Regions from separate parts of the Homo sapiens genome. Here region 1 is linked to region 2. Evidence: fine-mapped expression QTL. Tissue or cell type: subcutaneous fat. Region 2 holds a variant in brackets; the other region holds the start of a gene. All regions are shown on one strand. Distances are between the middles of the regions.

Region 1 (9,194 bases), 43 kb after region 2:
ATTGTTTAACTAAACCAGTTGGACATGGTGGCTCTTGCCTGTAATCCCAACACTTTGGGAGGCCGACGTAGGCGGATCACCTGAGGTCAGAAGTTCAAGACCAACCTTGCCAACATGGTAAAACCCCATCTCTACTAAAAATACAAAAATTAGCCATGAATAGTAGCACACCCCTATAATCCCAGCTACTCGGGTGGCTGAGGCAGGACAATCACTTGAACATGGGAGGTAGAGGTTGCAGTGAGCCAAGGCCATAACACTGCACTTCGGCCTGGGCGACAGAGTGAGACTTCATCTCAAAAACAAACAAACGGCTGGGCGCGGTGGCTCATGCCTGTAACCCCAGCACTTTGGGAGGCCGAGGCAGGCGGATCACCTGAGGTTGGGAGTTCGAGACCAGCCTGACCAATACGGAGATACCCTGTCTCCACTAAAAATATAAAATTAGCTGGGGCTGGTGGCGCATGGCTGTAATCCCAGCTACTTGGGAGGCTGAGATAGGAGAATTGCTTGAACCCCGAAGGCAGAGGTTGCGGTGAGCTGAGATTGTACCATTGCACTCCAGCCTGGGCAACTAGAGTGAAACTCCATCTCAAAAATAAATAATAACCAAAAAAAAAAAAAAAAAAACAAGAACAATAAATTGCTTAGCTAAACCAAACCAATTCTAATTACCACGAGCACCACCACACACACACACAAGCACCCCCTCAATTTATATGTCGTGTGGCCATCATTAGACCCAGTGAAAGCAGAGCAGTCACCACATGTCACTTGGCAGCCCTTGATTGTATATATGCCTCCAGGAGAGTCCACCTGTCTCCCACTGGGTAAATTCCCTCAAGGGATATCTGGTCCAGTCTTTTAGGGCCTATGGGTATATCCCTGGGCAGCATTCTCCGTAATTGGAGTTTCCAAAGAGTTTGCGCCATGGCAAAGAGGAGGCTGAATGCAGACTCTGCATCCTGCTCCCACACTGACTAAGCAGGCAGCACCCTGCATGGTGCATCATGGTCCCCCATCCTCACCACCCTGAGGCCCCTTCCAGCTGGTAGTCACAAGAACTGGATGGGTTTGCTTTGTGTGGCTGGAACTGCACCCAGGTCTGCTTTTCCAGGGAGGTTTTCCTTTTCCTTGGCAACCATCATAAATTGTCCCCTCTAGGGGATTTCCCCAACCCTGGGCCACTATCTCAGGTCTCAGGGGTCGGGGGGCCCTCTCATCTTTCAGAACTTACTGATGATGCTTAGTAAAGCCCACCCTGCACACAGCATTGGCTTCCAGATGGCCCACAAATAAGCATCAGGTGGGTCCATAGCCTACTCCGAATTATATCAAAATGTGATGTGGGGCTGGGTGTGGTAGCTCACACCTGTCATCCCAGCACTTTGGGAGGCTGAGGTGAGTGGATCACCTGCACCCAGGAGTTCGATACCAGCCTGGGCAACATGGGGAAATCCTGTCTCTCTATAAAAAATAGAAAAATTAGCCAGGCATGATGGTGCATGTCTGTAATCCCAACTACTCAGGTGGGAGTACTTGCTGAGGTGGGAGGATTGGTTGAGTCCAGGAGGTGAAGGCTGCAGTGAGCCGAGATCGCACCACTGCACTCCAGCCTGGGTGACAGAGCAAAACCCTGTCTCAAAAAAAAAAAAAAAAAAAAAAAAAAAAAAAAGGAAGTGATGTGGATGGGTTTCCATGCATTTTTTCTAGCAAAAGAGTCCATACAGTTTCTCATGTTTGAGCTGCTATCACAAGATACCATAGATACCATAGTTGGCCTTCACACCAGCGCTGTAAGGAAAGGTAGTGTTTTGGTTGCCTTCAACACCAAAAAGGTATTTCTCACAGTTCAGGAAGCTGGGAAGATCAAGATGCGGGGCGATTTGGTTTCTGGAGAGGGCACTTTTCCTAACTTACAGACAGCCGCCTTCTCACTATGCACTCACATGGCTTTCCTAGGCCCCGCATGAGGACAGAGCGCCCTCTCTCTTCCTTCTCTTGTAAGGAAACTAATCCTATCAGAGTAGGACACCACGGTAGGACCCCACTTAAACTTATTTTCCTCCTAAAAGCCCCAGCCCCAAATACAGTCGCTTTGGGGGTTAGGGCTTCAACATATGAATTTTGTGGAGATAGTCCATATCATAATCAAAGAAGCCTGTGTCCCAAAAAGGTGAAAAGCCAACAGAAGGCAATGTGAGAAACCTCCAAAAGCAGAAGTTGTGTTTTCACCCTTGATGAGTTTATGTCCTGGTTGACTAAGCAGATCCACATGTGGTCAGAGAACAGAAAAAGTTGTTATAGACTGTTCAACAGTAGGGAAGAGTCCATTTCTGGCTTAATGCACAAACTTATGATGATTTCAAATTCCTTTAGATTTATTATTTCTCCAAACTCAGCCATCCTAAACACGAAGTGCAAGTTTCGGAAGTATACTTTAATCCTGGCTAGCCCATTTTGAGTTCAGAGACTCCAGTGCGGCTCTACACAAAAAGTAAAAATAGGCATATCCTCGTCCAGCAGTGGATTCTCAATGAAAAACAAAACCAGAAATGTGTCAGGCACAGCGGCTCACACCTGTAATCCTAACACTTTGGGAGGCTGAGGTGGGTGGATCTACCTGAGGCCAGGAGTTCGAGACCAGCCTGGCCAACATGGTGAAACATCATCTCTACTAAAAACACAAAAATTACCTGGGTGTGGTGGTGCGTGCCTGTAACTCCAGCTACTTGGGAGGCTGAGGCACGAGAATCGCTTGAACCCAGGAGGCGGAGGTTGCAGTGAACAGAGATCACGCCACTGCACTCCAGCCTGGTGATGGAGACTCCACCTCAAAATAATAATAAAAATACAAACATTAGCTAGGCATGGTGGCTGACTCCTGTAGTCCCAACTACTTGAGCAGAGAGCATGTGCCACACTGTACTCCAGCCTGGGCGACAAAGGGAGACCCTGTCTCCAAAAAAAAGAAAAAGAAGAAGGAGATGCTCAAAGACGTGCACGATGCGAATACGGCAACGCACGAGAAGAGGTCCAGATTTTCCCATTAAAGAGAAATCACTGGTGGCTTTGTGGAAAAAAAAAGCAGAGACATTTCGCAGAAGCAGTAACTTCAACGATTTATAGTCCAAGTGATTGATTCCACACACAAAACAACATAGCTGGCCTTCACACCAACCCTGTGAGGAAAGGCTGTGTTTGGATACCTGTAATTTACTTTAAAATACTTTCCTACTGCGCAGGTACAGATAGGTTTGTTACGCTGATTGACTCCACAGGGTAGTGGGAGCTTCCTGCTCCAGCACGCTGCAAGGCCACACAGCAGGAGGCAGCAACTCCAGTGATTCCGTTTATCATTTTCTCCAATTAACACTAATGGCTGGGCGAATTAGCACAATGAGCATTAAAACTGTTTTCCCTGGTAAAAGTTAGTGACTTGTTAGCACAATAGAAGTGAAAATGAACAATGGTTGTCAAGTTAGCGGTATTTAAACTCTGGAACTTAGCTCCAATCTCTGCTTGGAGCATCAGCGACACTCTAACCTTAATCCCTAAATCGGCCCAGCTGTGAAAGGATCCAGCTGTGAAATCATAGTAGCTTTTCAGGTTGCCTGATACCATCTAGAAGGGAAACATCCCTCCAACCTAAACTAGAACGAAACTTTCATATTGGATACGGACAGAACACCCAAAGGCCAAGGAGCTTGCACTTCGTGGAGCTCTTAGGCGGGCTGTTCCACAGTTGTGTGTGTGTCTGAGTCTCCTGCTTGCTGACCAATGTTTGAGGGTGTGGTCAAATGGATCTGAAACTTGTTTTCTTCATACATGGTAGCGAGGCTCTGAGGGAAGTACTAACCCTCGCCAATCTCTGATCATCGGCCACCAGCAAAGCTACCAAGAGAAACTACTAGCAGTGCTTGACCAAGCCGGCCCGGGGCGCAACTGGCAGGCGCCGTTACGCCGCGTTGACCACATCCGAAAATAGATGAAGCCTTTGAGAGGCTGAAGAGCCCGACTGGGACAAGGCGTGTGCTGGCCGCCCCCTCGCTGGCTTCCCACAGGCTGCAGCTCCTTGCTCCAGGGCCGGCCCCCTCCTGTCCTCTCTCCAGCCCCCAGCGCCCCGGGAGCGGGCGACGCGCAGCCCTCACTCACCTTTGTGGCAGTGGGACAGGAAGTAGGCGCGGGCCCTCAGGTTCTCCCTATCGAAGCGGTCTATGGAGATAGTTGGATACTCGGCCATCTGCCCCTCGAAAGAACTCATAGCGCCGCCGATCCCAGAGTCCGGGACCCCAAAACCGCAGCTGAAGCCAAGGCCAGCCCTGACCGCGCCGCCACTTCCGGGAAGCCGCGCGCTGCCTCGCCATTGGGCGGCCGAACGCAGCCACGTCCAATCAGAGGAGTCCGGAGACCGGGGGCAAAGTCAAGGAGCATCCGGTCGGGTTCTAGGCGCCCGCTGCTTGGGTTTAAATCACCCGCGCTTCGCTGCACGCGATGGGCCCTGAGCCCTGCCCAGTGCAAGGCTCATTCCCGCCCAACAAACACAGGTGTTGCTCTGGTAAGGCGTTGCCCATGTCTGTGGAGGTGCAGTCGCGGGAAGGGAAATCGAAACTCCCAGAGCAGGTGGCCCCAGCCGACGAGGTGAGTGGGCTGCGGAACTGCGCTTAGAAATCATTCTTCGTTCCGCTTCCTGCTTGTCTGCTGCTAGCCTGAAACCCGAGCTCAGTTCCCCGCCCTCTCTCTTCTGTTCCCAATTTCTAACCTTGTGGGATTACCGTGAGGGTTGTATGAGAAAGTTTGTATCTGACTCATGGTAGATTCAGGAACTATTAATTCCCTCTTCCGTTTATATAATCTACAAACTGAATAAATCATCTCTGCGTGATCTTGGGGCAAATAAGATCCCAATAATGCCTTCGCTGCTGGCCTCTCCCCTGGGCCCCCACCTTTTTGAGCTATACTTTTAGGAAGTTAGAATGATGTACTTAAAAAAAGAAAAATGGCAGGAAAGGTCTAAAATTTTTTAACAACCAAAGCAACTTTATGAAAAGGTTTGTTAAACCTTTTATTGTATTTCCTTTATTGTATTACAATAAACCAAATAATCACCATGACATTTATTGTGCTCCTTCCTATCAAATCTCCTTAGTATAATTAAACACAAACAACCCAGAACACTTTCGCTTTATTTTATTTATTTATTCAGTTGGGGTCTAGTTCTATCGCCCAGGCTGGAGTGCAGTGGCGTGATTTCGGCTCTCTGCAACCTCCGCCTCCCGGGTTCAGGCGATTCTCCTGCCTCAGCCTCCAGAGTAGCTGGGACTACAGGCACGCGCCGCCACGCCTGGCTCATTTTTATATTTTTAGCAGAGACGGGGTTTCACCACGTTGACCAGGCTGGTCTCGAGCTCCTGGCCTCATGCGATCCGCTCGCCTCGGCCTCCCAAAGTGCTGGGTGAGCCATTGTACCTGGCTTTCCAGGCCTCCATAACACTTGAAGTCCCACTTTGTGCACAGCACTGTGACAAACCTTCGGGTAGCATTCAATCTATCTGGCGACAACATGTTTGCAGAATATGGCAAATAAATGCTTCCACAGAGACGCAAGGTAACGTGAGAACAAATCCAGGAACAAAGATTTCTGACCAGGGAAATCAGGAATCAGAATGCCATCCCAGCCCACCTCAGTGGCTCATGCCTGTAATCCCAGCACTTTGGAGGGCTGAGGCAGGTGATCACCTGAGGTCAGGAGTTCAGGACCAGCCTGGACAACATGGTGAAACCCCATCTCTACTAAAAATACAAAAATCGGCCGGGCATGGTGGCACACATCTCCAGCTACTCGGGAGGCCGAGGCAGGAGAATCACTTGAACCTGGGAGGCGGAGGTTGCAGTGAGCCTAGATCATGCCAGTTCACTCCAGCCTGGGCAACAGAGAGAGACTCTGTCTCAAAAAAACAAAACAAAACAGAATGACATCCCTAGTGAATGTCAGCTTGTGCCTGTAGCCATGATACTCAGAGTTCTATTCAAATACAGATTTCCATGAAATCTTGAGGAGGGGGAGGAGGGGTGACATGGAAAGGTATACACAACATAATCACTAATTGAGGTAAAATATCCTGCTAGTATACTACTGGCAACACCTTTGATGGTTTGTCTTAGAACACATGGGAACAACTGCCCTGGCAGGGTTATGGAGACCTAACAACAAATTCTGCTGTGAGTCTAGTGTCCGAAGAATCTCACGGTAGAGCTCCAGGAAAGGCAGGTCAAGTTAATGCTCGTGATCTTATGTATTTGCTCACTTATTTATCTCCTCCTCTTTCCACAATGGATACAGTACAAACAAAGGGAAATAGAGTCAGGACAAAGAGAAAGACAGGATAGAAAATAGGCAAGATAGGTAAGCATAGCCCAGACCAAACCTAGTGAATCAGAAACTCTGGGAGAGTGGGGCCTGGCAGTTTGCAGCTTAACACACCTTCTAGGTGATTCTGATGGACCCTAAAGTTTGAGAACCACTGGATTCGAGTCTAAAGAACATTCAGGGCCAGTGTGGTGGCTCATGCCTATAATCCCAACACTTTGGGAGGCCGACGCAGGTGGATCACCCGAGGTCAGGAGTTCGAGACCAGCCTGACCAACATGGGGAAACCCCGTCTCTACTAAAAATAAAAAAAAAAATAGCCAGGCATGGAGTCAGGGGCCTGTAATCCCAGCTACTCAGGAGGCTGAGGCAGGAGAATTGCTTGTACCCAGGATGCGGAAATTGCACTGAGCCGAGATTGGACCATGGCACTCCAGCCTGGGCAACAAGAGCGAAACTCCATCTCGAAAGCAAAACAAAACAAAAAAACACAACACTCAAGAAGTCTGGGGCAGGAATTCAGGTAGGAAGCTGCTGCAATACTGCAGGAAATGTGATGGTGAAGCTTAATTCATTCAGCAAATCATTCACTGACCATCTACTGTGTATCAGACACTATTTTAGACACTAAAGATACAGTAGTGAGCAAAGTAGACAAAAAATGTGGCCCATCCTGGTGGCTCCTGCCTGTAATCTCAGCACTTTGGGAGGCCAAGGCAGGTGGATCACTTGAGGCCAGGAGTTAAAGACCAACATGACAAAACCCCAGCTCTACTAAAGATGCAAAAAGAATTAGCCGGGTGTGGTGGTACACCTACAATAACAACTACTTGGGAGCTGAGGCACAAGAATCACTTGAACCTGGAGGCAGAGATTGCAGTGAGCCAAGATGGCACCACTGCACTCCAGTCTAGACGACAAAAGAGACCCTGTCTCAAAAAAATAAAACTAAAAAAGCAGACAAAAATCCCTGTGGACGTGGGAGTGTACCTTCTAATGCAAGTAATTACTGTCTACCATTTATGTAGTTCCAGATGTTATCAGTGTTTTATACTCATTATTTCATCCTCACATCCTACCTGCCCATCAGATAGGTACACTTTCTGTCCTCATTTGCCAGTTGAGGATACGGAGGTTAAGTAGCTTGTCCAGGGTCATGTTGATAGTAAGTAGAGCTCAGATTTAAATCCAAGAAGGCCACCACACTTTTAGACACTGTGCTCTCTGACAACACACTGCTAGCCACCGTGCCATGCTGCCTCCACAGCATCGGAAGGGCAGTGATGAAATATACTGATTCAAAATATATCCCTTTAGCACCTACTGTGTGCTAGGCAGTGTTAGGCCAGTGTGGCTGCAGCAGAATGATCCGGGGCTACAGAGGAAGGAGGGAGGGTGTTGTGAGCAAATCTTACAGGGCTTTGCTCACCATGTATAGCCTCTGGTTTTCACTCTCCATAAGATGGGAAGCCATTGCAGGGTTGTGAGCAGAGGACTGACATAATTTGACTTAGGTTTTTTTGTTTTGTTTTCTTTGAGACGGAGTCTCCCTCTATGCCCAGGCTGGAGTGCAGTGACGCAATCTCGGCTCACTGCCACCTCCACCTCCACCTCCACCTCCTGGGTTCAAGCGATTCTCCTGCCTCAGCCTCCCGAGTAGCTGGGACTACAGGTGCACGCCACCACTCCCAGCTAGTTCTTTTGTATTTTTAGTAGAGAAAGGGTTTCACCATATTGGCCAGGCTGGTCTCGAACTCCTGACCTCGTGATCTGCCCACCTCAGCCTCCCAAAGTGCTGGGATTACAGGTGTGAGCCACCGCGCCCGGCCTTGACTTAGGTTTTAAACAGATTGCATTGACTGTTGTGTTGACAACAGACTACAGAGGGGGCATAGAGAGCTGTTGGGAACGGTTGTAATTACCAGAAAAAAGAAAAATTATGATGGCTTGAGTAGAAGCTATAAAGTCAGCAGGTTGCATTGATGGATATGGAAAGAGAGGGCTCTAGGCCACATCTACTAAAAGACATGAAGAAGGAGCAGGGTTTTTGTTTTTGTTTTGGCAGGGAGGTGTTTGGGGAGGTTGTTTTGTACAATCAAGTGGATGTTGAATATACATTGATATACAAATCTAAAGTTCAGAGAAAGACCGGGCTGAAGAGAGAAATTTGGGAGTTGTAAGTAAATAGTTTTTTGTTTTTAGTTTTACTAAGTATTGCCTTTGTTTTAGTATGACTCGTTTATTTAGAAGTTTATATAATTTAATTTGTGATATGTCTTGTGTTTTTGTTTTGTTTGGGGCAGGTGCCCGAGGCCCTTGTCATCTTCATTGACTCCAGCTCATGGCTTGTATTTAACAACGAGCTCAGAAAAATTCCTAAAAATTTAATTACTGAGTCTCCAGAGCTCTAATGAGCTGGCTCCAGCACACAATTGCTCCTTTCTTTCATTCAACAATTTGACAAGTCCTGATGGCTCTACATTCAAAACATGTAAATTGGCCGGGCGCGGTGGCTCACGCCTGTAATCCCAGCTCTTTGGGAGGCCGAGGCGGGTGGATGACGAGGTCAGGAGATCGAGATCATCCTGGCTAACACGGTGAAACCCCGTCTCTACTAAAAATACAAAAAATTAGCCAGGCGTGGTGGTGGGTGCCTGTAGTCCCAGCTACTCGGGAGGCTGAGGCAGGAGAATGGCGTGAACCCGGGAGGCGGAGCTTGCAGTGAGCCGAGATAGCACCACTGCACTCCAGCCTGGGCGACGGAGCGAGACTCCGTCTAAAAAAAAACAAAAACAAAAAAACAAAAAACCGTATATCTTGAATC
Region 2 (8,000 bases):
ATGATTTTCAGTTCTATATTCTTACTGATTAATGTGTATATACTAGTTCTGTTACTAAGGAGGGATGTTAAATTAATCCCTAGCTGTAATTGTGCATTAGTTTGTCTCTTTTCAGCTGTTCTAGCTTCATAAATTTTTGGAGCTGTTAGGTGCATATACGTTTAGGATTATTTTGTCTTCTTGGTGAACTAGACCTTTTATCATTAGGAAACTGTCCATATAACCACTCCATTTTTAATTGTTTACATGGTTTTTCCATCCTTTTAACCTATCAATCACTTGAATTGACTTTCTTTATAGACAGCAGATCACTGGGTTATGTTGGTTTTTTCCGTGTCTCTTGTCATTGATGCACTTAGACCATTTACATTTAATGTAATCATTGATACGTATGGGTTTAGTTCTACCATTTTTTTTTCTTTTTTTTTTTTTTTTTTTTTGAGACAGAGTTTTGCTCTTGTTGCCCAGGCTGGAGTGCAATGACACAATCTCAGCTCACTGCAACCACCACCTCCCAGGTTCAAGTGATTCTCCTGCCTTGGCCTCCTGCGTAGCTGGGATTACAGGCATGAGCCACCGTGCCTGGCCTTTTTCTTTTTTAAACAGGGTCTTGCTCTGTCACCCAGACTAGAGGTGCAGTGGCACAGTCATGGCTCACTGCAGCCTCAATCTCCTGGGCTCAAGTGATCCTCAAGGGCCTCCAGAGTAGCCCACCACCATGCCTGGCTTTTTTTTTTTTTTTTTTTTTTGTAAGTAGAGACACATTTCACTGTGTTGGCCAGGCTGGTGTCGAACTCCTGGGCTCAAGCCATTGCCCACCTCAAAGTGCTGGGATTACAAGTGTGAGCCACCACACCCAACCAGGTTATTTGAACATTTTTAAGTACTGTATTTTCTCTATTGTAATATTGACTGTCATCTCTGTGCAGGTTTTTTAGTGGTTGCTCTAGGTTGAAACGCTTTGAATTCTTAGGTATCTAAGAGTGAGCATTTTCTTTTTTTGACTGCTATACTCTCACCAGTTGCCAGCTTCTCATATAAATATTGTAAATGCTCTCGTTTAGGTAACTCAGCTTCTGGAGTTGAGGGAACTTCAAAATCAGAAGAGCTCTGGGAATCTGCATTTGTGCTAAGATTTAGCAAACTTTTTTCCTCGGGTATATGTGTCTCACTGCTTAGAGTAGTTGGTTCTCCAGTACTAGGAACTATTGTCACATCTTTATCTCTGCTTTTCAAATCAGAGTAAGTATCCTTTGGGCAAATTACATTTTGTTCCATGAGAGAGGCAGGAATATTCTCTTTGATTGTTGGTCTGTAGTCAGCTTTGTCCAAGGAAGTAATATCCCCACTGTTTCTCTCTTGGGAAGATAACAAAACAGTATCAGATTGGCTGTCCCAGCCTTGACTTCCTTGTTCTGTTATGTGTGTTGACTGGGAAGAATTCTGGGAGGAGATGTGAGTTGATTCTCCATCAGAGTCACTGAAAAGCTTTGGTGACTGAGATCCCCCTGCCACTGTGGAGGAAGGGAAGTTTTCCAAACTCTCATCTGTGATTTCATCATTTCTTTTAAAGAATACTTCCCACTGGGGTACATCCCCATCAGCCTTTTGCAGGTGAAGTACAGAGCCCAGATCTCCTTGCAGTGAAGCTGGGATTCCTACTTCTTCTTCACTTTCACTGTTGGATTCTTCACAATCTACAAAGTTTGTGAAACGAGAGCTCTGCATACACTCTGCTCTGCAGCATCCTGGGGTTTGTCTCAGTTTTTCAGGCTGCTTTTCTGATACTGCAGTCATTGAAAATACCTCAGGGTGAAAAGTTTCCGGGTATGGAACTTTGTGCCTTAAAGGTATTGGCAGAGGATCATCAAAGAGATAGTCATCTTCCTCCTCTGTGGGACAAACAAAACAGGTTTATAGGAAACAAGGCAAAGGGAGCCAATTTGTAGTATTTATCTGTACTTTTAATTCTTGGAATTGCAAAGAATAGGGAGGCCACTCTTCTTCAAAGGGAAAAGATATTCTTGGGATATGCTGAACAATTTAACTGCCATCCTTCAACTTTTTATAATAAATGCCAGAGTATCAGTGGAGAATATAGAGCAGTCACTCTGCTCTATATGTAAGCCTGGCTGATCATTACGATCATATGCAAAACTTCAAAAAAAGAAAAAAAAAAAAAACAGGTTTCTGTATCTCATTCCAGACCTACTGAATCCCTGAGGAAGATAGGACCAAATAATTTGATTTTTAAGTTCTACAGCTGATATCTGTTCAGCCAGGTTTGCAAAGCCTGTGTGCTCTGCAAATAGTAGATGCTCAGTGGGTTGGCTGACTTAGGAAAATTAAATTGCTTTTTATTAAGGTTTTTCTTCTGTGAGCATCTTATTGACATGTTTTATGCACAAGGTTGCAACAGGTTAAATCAACTTTAAAGCAAAATACTGAATAATCAACGTGTCAAGAACTTAAAATTCAAAACATTAATAAGCATGCTGTGTCAACAAATGTTCTTAAAATGAAAAAAGCCTTACTTAGAAAAACAAATATTTTCCCATCTTGTAACAGTATCTAACCTAGGAAGAAAGTTAAATGCACCCAAGACTACTGTGTATGGCAACTTCTTGTTCTACTGCTGAATCTGGTGTTATAATAATCCACTTAAATGATGTGGCTAAACACTGCATTTTTAAGACACTAATATAAAGGACCATAGAGACCATTATCCAGCTCCCATGTTCCCCGTGTGAAGCTAGGCCCAGAGAAAAGGGTGTGCCAATACACACGACCCAACCTCATTCTTAAAGGTTCAGTGTTATGACTTGTAACTGAACTTAGGGCTTAAGGTCACTAAGATATCTAACGACTGTATTTGGAATCATCCTAGACTGCAGAATGTAGATTTTAAGCCAAAGATCATATGTATGTTTTAGGTCCCTCACTACTATGCCAAAGTTGTTTTTTGAGTTTTATACAGTCACAGTTCAGCCTCTACCTCTCAGGCTCAGGAGATCCACCCCCATGCCCAGCTAATTTTTTTTAGACAGTGTTTCCCCTTGTTGCCCAGGTTGGTTTTGAACTCCTGCACTCAGGCAATCCACCCCCTCGGCCTCCCAAATTGCTGGAATTAGAGGCATGAGCCACTTTGCCTAGCCCAAAATTACCTTTTTATGAAATATTTTTGTATGATCTCTAAGTTGAACAGTTCTGCATTCCAAATCAGTGACTATGCCTGATCCCAAAAGACATTTATCAAAAAGGAGTGTGGATTGGGTAGATGCATAAAAGGCACAAAAGATTAAAGGAAGAAAGGACTTTTGCTTCCAGGTAAGATGGAGTAACGGACTAGATTTA[A/C]CCTCCCACTTGAAATAACGAAAAATCAGAAACTATCTCTCAAGAAAATGGACATCGAGCAATTAAGGACAATGACATGAGAAATAAGACACAGATGAGTCCTATGATTGCCTGACTCCCTGCTTCATAACAGATTCCAGTCAGGGAGGGAACATCTGGATAGAGCCCATGGACATCCTTGATGTGAGGTGGAAGTGGAACATTGAAGAAATAAATGTACCTGGAGTTTACAGAGCAGAAGACCAGAGAGGAGAGTGCTGCACAGAAACTCTGAAAAGCTGCAGAGGCGTCCCCACCACGTGTTCAGTGCACTAAGCAGCATGTGCTTGTAAGGAAACTACCTGCAGCCAGGCAACGAATCACTCAAACAAAAGGAAAGAAAGTGCCCAGAACTCACCGTGCCAGGAACAGTGTCTTGTCCTGGTCCCAACAGCCAGAGTGGAAAACCTCATGATCCATGGGCATTTGTAAAAGAACCAAGAAGAGCCTTGCCTCAGTAGTGGGGAAAATTAACCATATACTAAATGCTACTCTGTTCCTGCATAACAAAGGTAAAAGACACGAAAAGATCAAACTATAAACATGCTAACCACATGCCAGAACAAAGCTCAAGAATGTTTTTAGAAATCCCAAAATTATGCAGGACCTAAAAAGGTAAAATTCAGAATGTATGGCATTCAAAAACAAATTATCAGAAATTCAAGAAGCAGGAAGATACAGTCAAAACTGACTGTAAAATTATGTAACATGGGAGTCAATTTTCATGATCTTGGATCAAATAGTTTCTTAGATATGACACCAAAGCATATGCAATAAAAGAAAAAAATAGACAAATTTAACTTAAAACCTTTACGCTTCAAGACACCATCAAGAAGGTGAAAAGACAAGTCTGAGAAAATATTTCCTAATCATGTCAGATAAAGGACTGATACCAGACTTTAACTCTTACAACTCAATACAAAGGTCAATAATCCAGTTGAAATGGGGGCAAAAGATCAGAATAGACATTTCACTGAAGAAGTTACATAAATGGCCAATAAGCACATGAAAGAAAGCTCAACATTAGTCATTAGAGAAATGCAAATCAAAACTGCAGGGTACCACCATACACTAGGATGGCTATACTAAAAAAGACGGAAGTGTTGGCTAATATGTGAAGGAACTGGAATCTTTACATATTGCCGGAGAGAATGTAAAATGTATTCAGTGTGGGAATGTTTGGCAGTTCCTTGGAGTGTTAAAACAGATTGACCATATGTTATGAACTGAACGCTTCCTGTCAAAATTCATATGTGGAAGCCCTAAAGCCAGTGTGGCTGTTATCTAGAGATGGACCTCTAGGGAAATAATTAAACCATCATAAGGCTGGAGACTTGATCTGCCTAAGTGCTAGAATTACAGGCTTGAGCCACTGTGCCCAGCCTAATTTTTACTTTTTTTTTAAGCAGAGACAAGTTTTCACCATGTTGGCCAGGTTGGTCTTGAACTCCTGATCTCAGGTGATCCATCCGCCTCGGCCTCCCAAAGTGCTGGGATTATAGGCGTGAGCCACTATGCCTGGCCTCCTGTTTAAGCTACCTAGTATGTGTTATTTTCTTAGGGCAGCCCAAGCCAACTATATGACTCCAAAATTCTACCCCCCACAAGAAATAAAACCCAACAGAAAGATACGTAAAGACTTGTACTCAAATTTTCATAGCATTATTATTTAAAAAGGAGAAGCAACCCAGATGTCCATCAGCTGGTGAGTGGATAAATAAAATGTTGTATGCCTGTACAATTGAATATTGGTTGGCAATAAAAAGGTATGAAATACTGATATATGCCACAGTATAGATGTACCTTGAAAAGATAATGCGAAATAAAAGCCAGGCACAAAATAGCACATGGTGTATAATTTCTTTTTTTTCTTTTTGAGACAGAGTCTCGCTCTGTCGCCCACACTGGAGTGCAGTGGTGTGATCTCACTGCAAGCTCTGCCTCCTGGGTTCACGCCATTCTGCCTCCGCTGCCCTAATAGCTGGGACTACAGGTGCCCGCCACCACACCTGGCTAATTTTTTGTGTTTTTAGTAGAGACGGGGTTTCACCGTGTTAGCCAGGATGGTCTCGATCTCTCTGACCACATGATCCACCCGCCTTGGCCTCCCAAAGTGCTGGGATTACAGGCGTGAGCCACTGTGCCTGGCCAATAGCTGGGACTACAGGCGCCCGCCACCACACCTGGCTAATTTTTTGTGTTTTTAGTAGAGACGGGGTTTCACCGTGTTAGCCAGGATGGTCTCGATCTCTCTGACCTCATGATCCACCTGCCTTGGCCTCCCAAAGTGCTGGGATTACAGGCGCGAGCCACTGTGCCTGGCCATATGAGTTCTCTTATATGAAGTGTCCAGAAAACACAAATCTATAGAGACAAACCATAGATTAGTTGCGGCCTAAGGCCGGGAATAGTAATGGGGAGTGACTGGAAATAGACATAAAGTTTCTTTTTTGGGTAACAAAAAATGTTCCAAAATTAGATAGTGGGGATGATTGTACAATTCTGTTATACTAACAGTCGTGGAATTGTTCACCTATAATGGATGAATTTATGGTGTATCAATTATACTTCAATAAAGCTTAAAAAATAATTTTGTATTGTGGAGTTTATAAAGTTAATAACAGAGAATGTATGACAATAACAGCACAGACTGGGAGAAGAGGAATGGAAATATACTGCTGGAACATTCCTATACCATATTTGGAGTAATATATCATTTATCTTTTCACTCTGATATGTTAAAGATGTATACGGTCAGTCCTCTGTATCCACAGGTTCCACATCTGTAGATTTGACTGACCACAGATCAAACATATTTGGAAAAAAGCAAAAATTAAAATACAAAAAACACAAAAATTGATACAGTATAACAACTAGTTACCAAGCATTTACACTGTATTAGGTATAAGTAATCCAGAGATGATTTTAAGTATATGGGAGGATATGTGTAGGTTATATGCAAATGTAACACCATTTAATATGACTTGAGCATCTGCAGATTTTGGTACTCTTGGGGGGGTCCTGGAACCAATCCCCCAAGGATACTAAGGGATGACTGCATTATAAGCCACTAAAATAAGAAATCAGTGAGTTACACAGCCAATAACCCAACAAGAGATTAAACAGAATCAGTCAGTAATTACTTGACCTGAAAGAAGGCCAAAAAAGAATAAAGAACAAATGGAACAAATAGCAAGAGGATAAACTTAAACCTGACCATATCAATGGGTACCATTAAACTAAGTGGACTAAGCACTGCAATTAAAAGCCAGAAAATACCAGGTTGGCCATAAAAACATCCAACAACATACTGCTTACAAGAAACCCACTTTAAATATAAAGACTAGTTAAAAATACAGAGATGGAAAAAGATACATCAAGCCAATATTAATGAGAAGAAATTCAAATGGCTCTAGTAGATTGTAGAACTAAGAATGTTACCAGGGGATAGACTCATTTCCTAAAGATAAAGGTATCAATCCCTCAAGAGGATATAAGAATCTTAAACTTGTGTATACCTATTAATAGTGCCTCAAATAGATGAAGCAAATGCCAATAGAACTAATCAAGGCAAAATAGGCAAGTCCACAATTACAACTGGAGATTGCAACACCCCTCTCTGGCAATAATTGATAGAACAAGAATGTAGAAGACCTGAACAACATTGTCAACTAACTTAGCCTAGTTGACATTTATAGAACACTTCATCCAACAACAGTAGTACATATATTTCTTTGAAGTACACATTAAACATTTACCAGGTTTAATGTGTAAATTGGTCCACAATTGATGGTCCGTAAATATTCTGGACCATAAATTTCAAAAGTACCAGGCCAGGTGTGGTGGCTCACGCCTGTAATCCCAACATTTTGGGAGGCAGGTGGATCACCTGAGGTCAGGAGTTTGAGACCAGCCTGGCCAACATGGCAAAACCCTGTGGCTACTAAAAATACAAAACATTAGCCAGGTATGGTGGCGTGAGCCTGTAATTCCAGCTACTTCGGATGCTGACACAGGAGAATCACTTGAACCTGGGAGGCAGAGGTTGCAATGAGCCAAGATTGTGTGACTGCACTCCAGCCTGGGGAACAGAGAGAATCCATCTCATTAAAAAAAAAAAAAATCATACAAAGTATGTTCTCTAACCACAATAACATTAATTTAGATAACAGAATAATCCCTGGGAAGTCCTCCAAAATTCAGAAACTAGTAACAAATTTCTAAATAACCCATGTGTCAAAGAAAAAAAGTCAAAGGAAAAATTTAAAAATGTTTTGAATGACAATGAAAACAAGACAAATTTATGGGATGCTGCTAAAGAGGGAAAATTATAGCACTAAATGCCTACATTAGAAAATAAGGTCTCAAATCAACGACCTCAGCTTCCATATTAAGAAACTTAAAAATGAAAAGCAAATAAAATTCCAAGTAAGCAGATAAAGATCAGAGTGGAATTCAATGAAATAGAAAACTACCCCGTGCCAAAAAAACAAAAAAGAGAGAAAATGAAAATAAAACCAAAAACTTCTTATTTGAGAAGATCAGTAAAACTGGTAAACCTCTAGCTAGACTAATCAAGAAAAAAATGAGAGAAGACACAAACTACT

Direction of the effects. Alleles are on the strand shown, and positions count from the first base shown. SD is a standard deviation of normalised expression in the study named.
For the expression in subcutaneous fat of the gene that starts at base 4,350 in region 1, allele A in region 2 goes with a lower level than allele C (small effect, 0.23 SD a copy in GTEx).

Evidence for each region. PIP is the estimated chance that this variant, and not a neighbour inherited with it, causes the effect.
Region 1: it holds the start of DCLRE1C, and the variant in region 2 is fine-mapped to the expression of DCLRE1C in subcutaneous fat (GTEx, PIP above 0.99). The same link has a PIP of 0.9 or more in prefrontal cortex, putamen and tibial nerve.

What each region holds. Positions count from the first base shown.
Region 1 is chr10:14,949,747-14,958,940 of GRCh38, forward strand. It overlaps DCLRE1C (DNA cross-link repair 1C), which reads right to left and starts at 4,350. Exons shown (of 14, transcript NM_001033855.3): 1 at 4,156-4,350. The coding sequence starts at 4,264. It also overlaps a transcript of MEIG1 not described here. RefSeq lists enhancers at 2,987-3,715, 3,716-4,443 and a silencer at 4,462-4,541.
Region 2 is chr10:14,907,439-14,915,438 of GRCh38, forward strand. DCLRE1C (DNA cross-link repair 1C) reads right to left here. Exons shown (of 14, transcript NM_001033855.3): 14 at 1-1,892. The coding sequence ends at 970. Among named protein-coding and RNA genes, the nearest start is that of SUV39H2, 33 kb to the left of the region's middle. The variant A/C (reference allele first, on the strand shown) is at 3,355.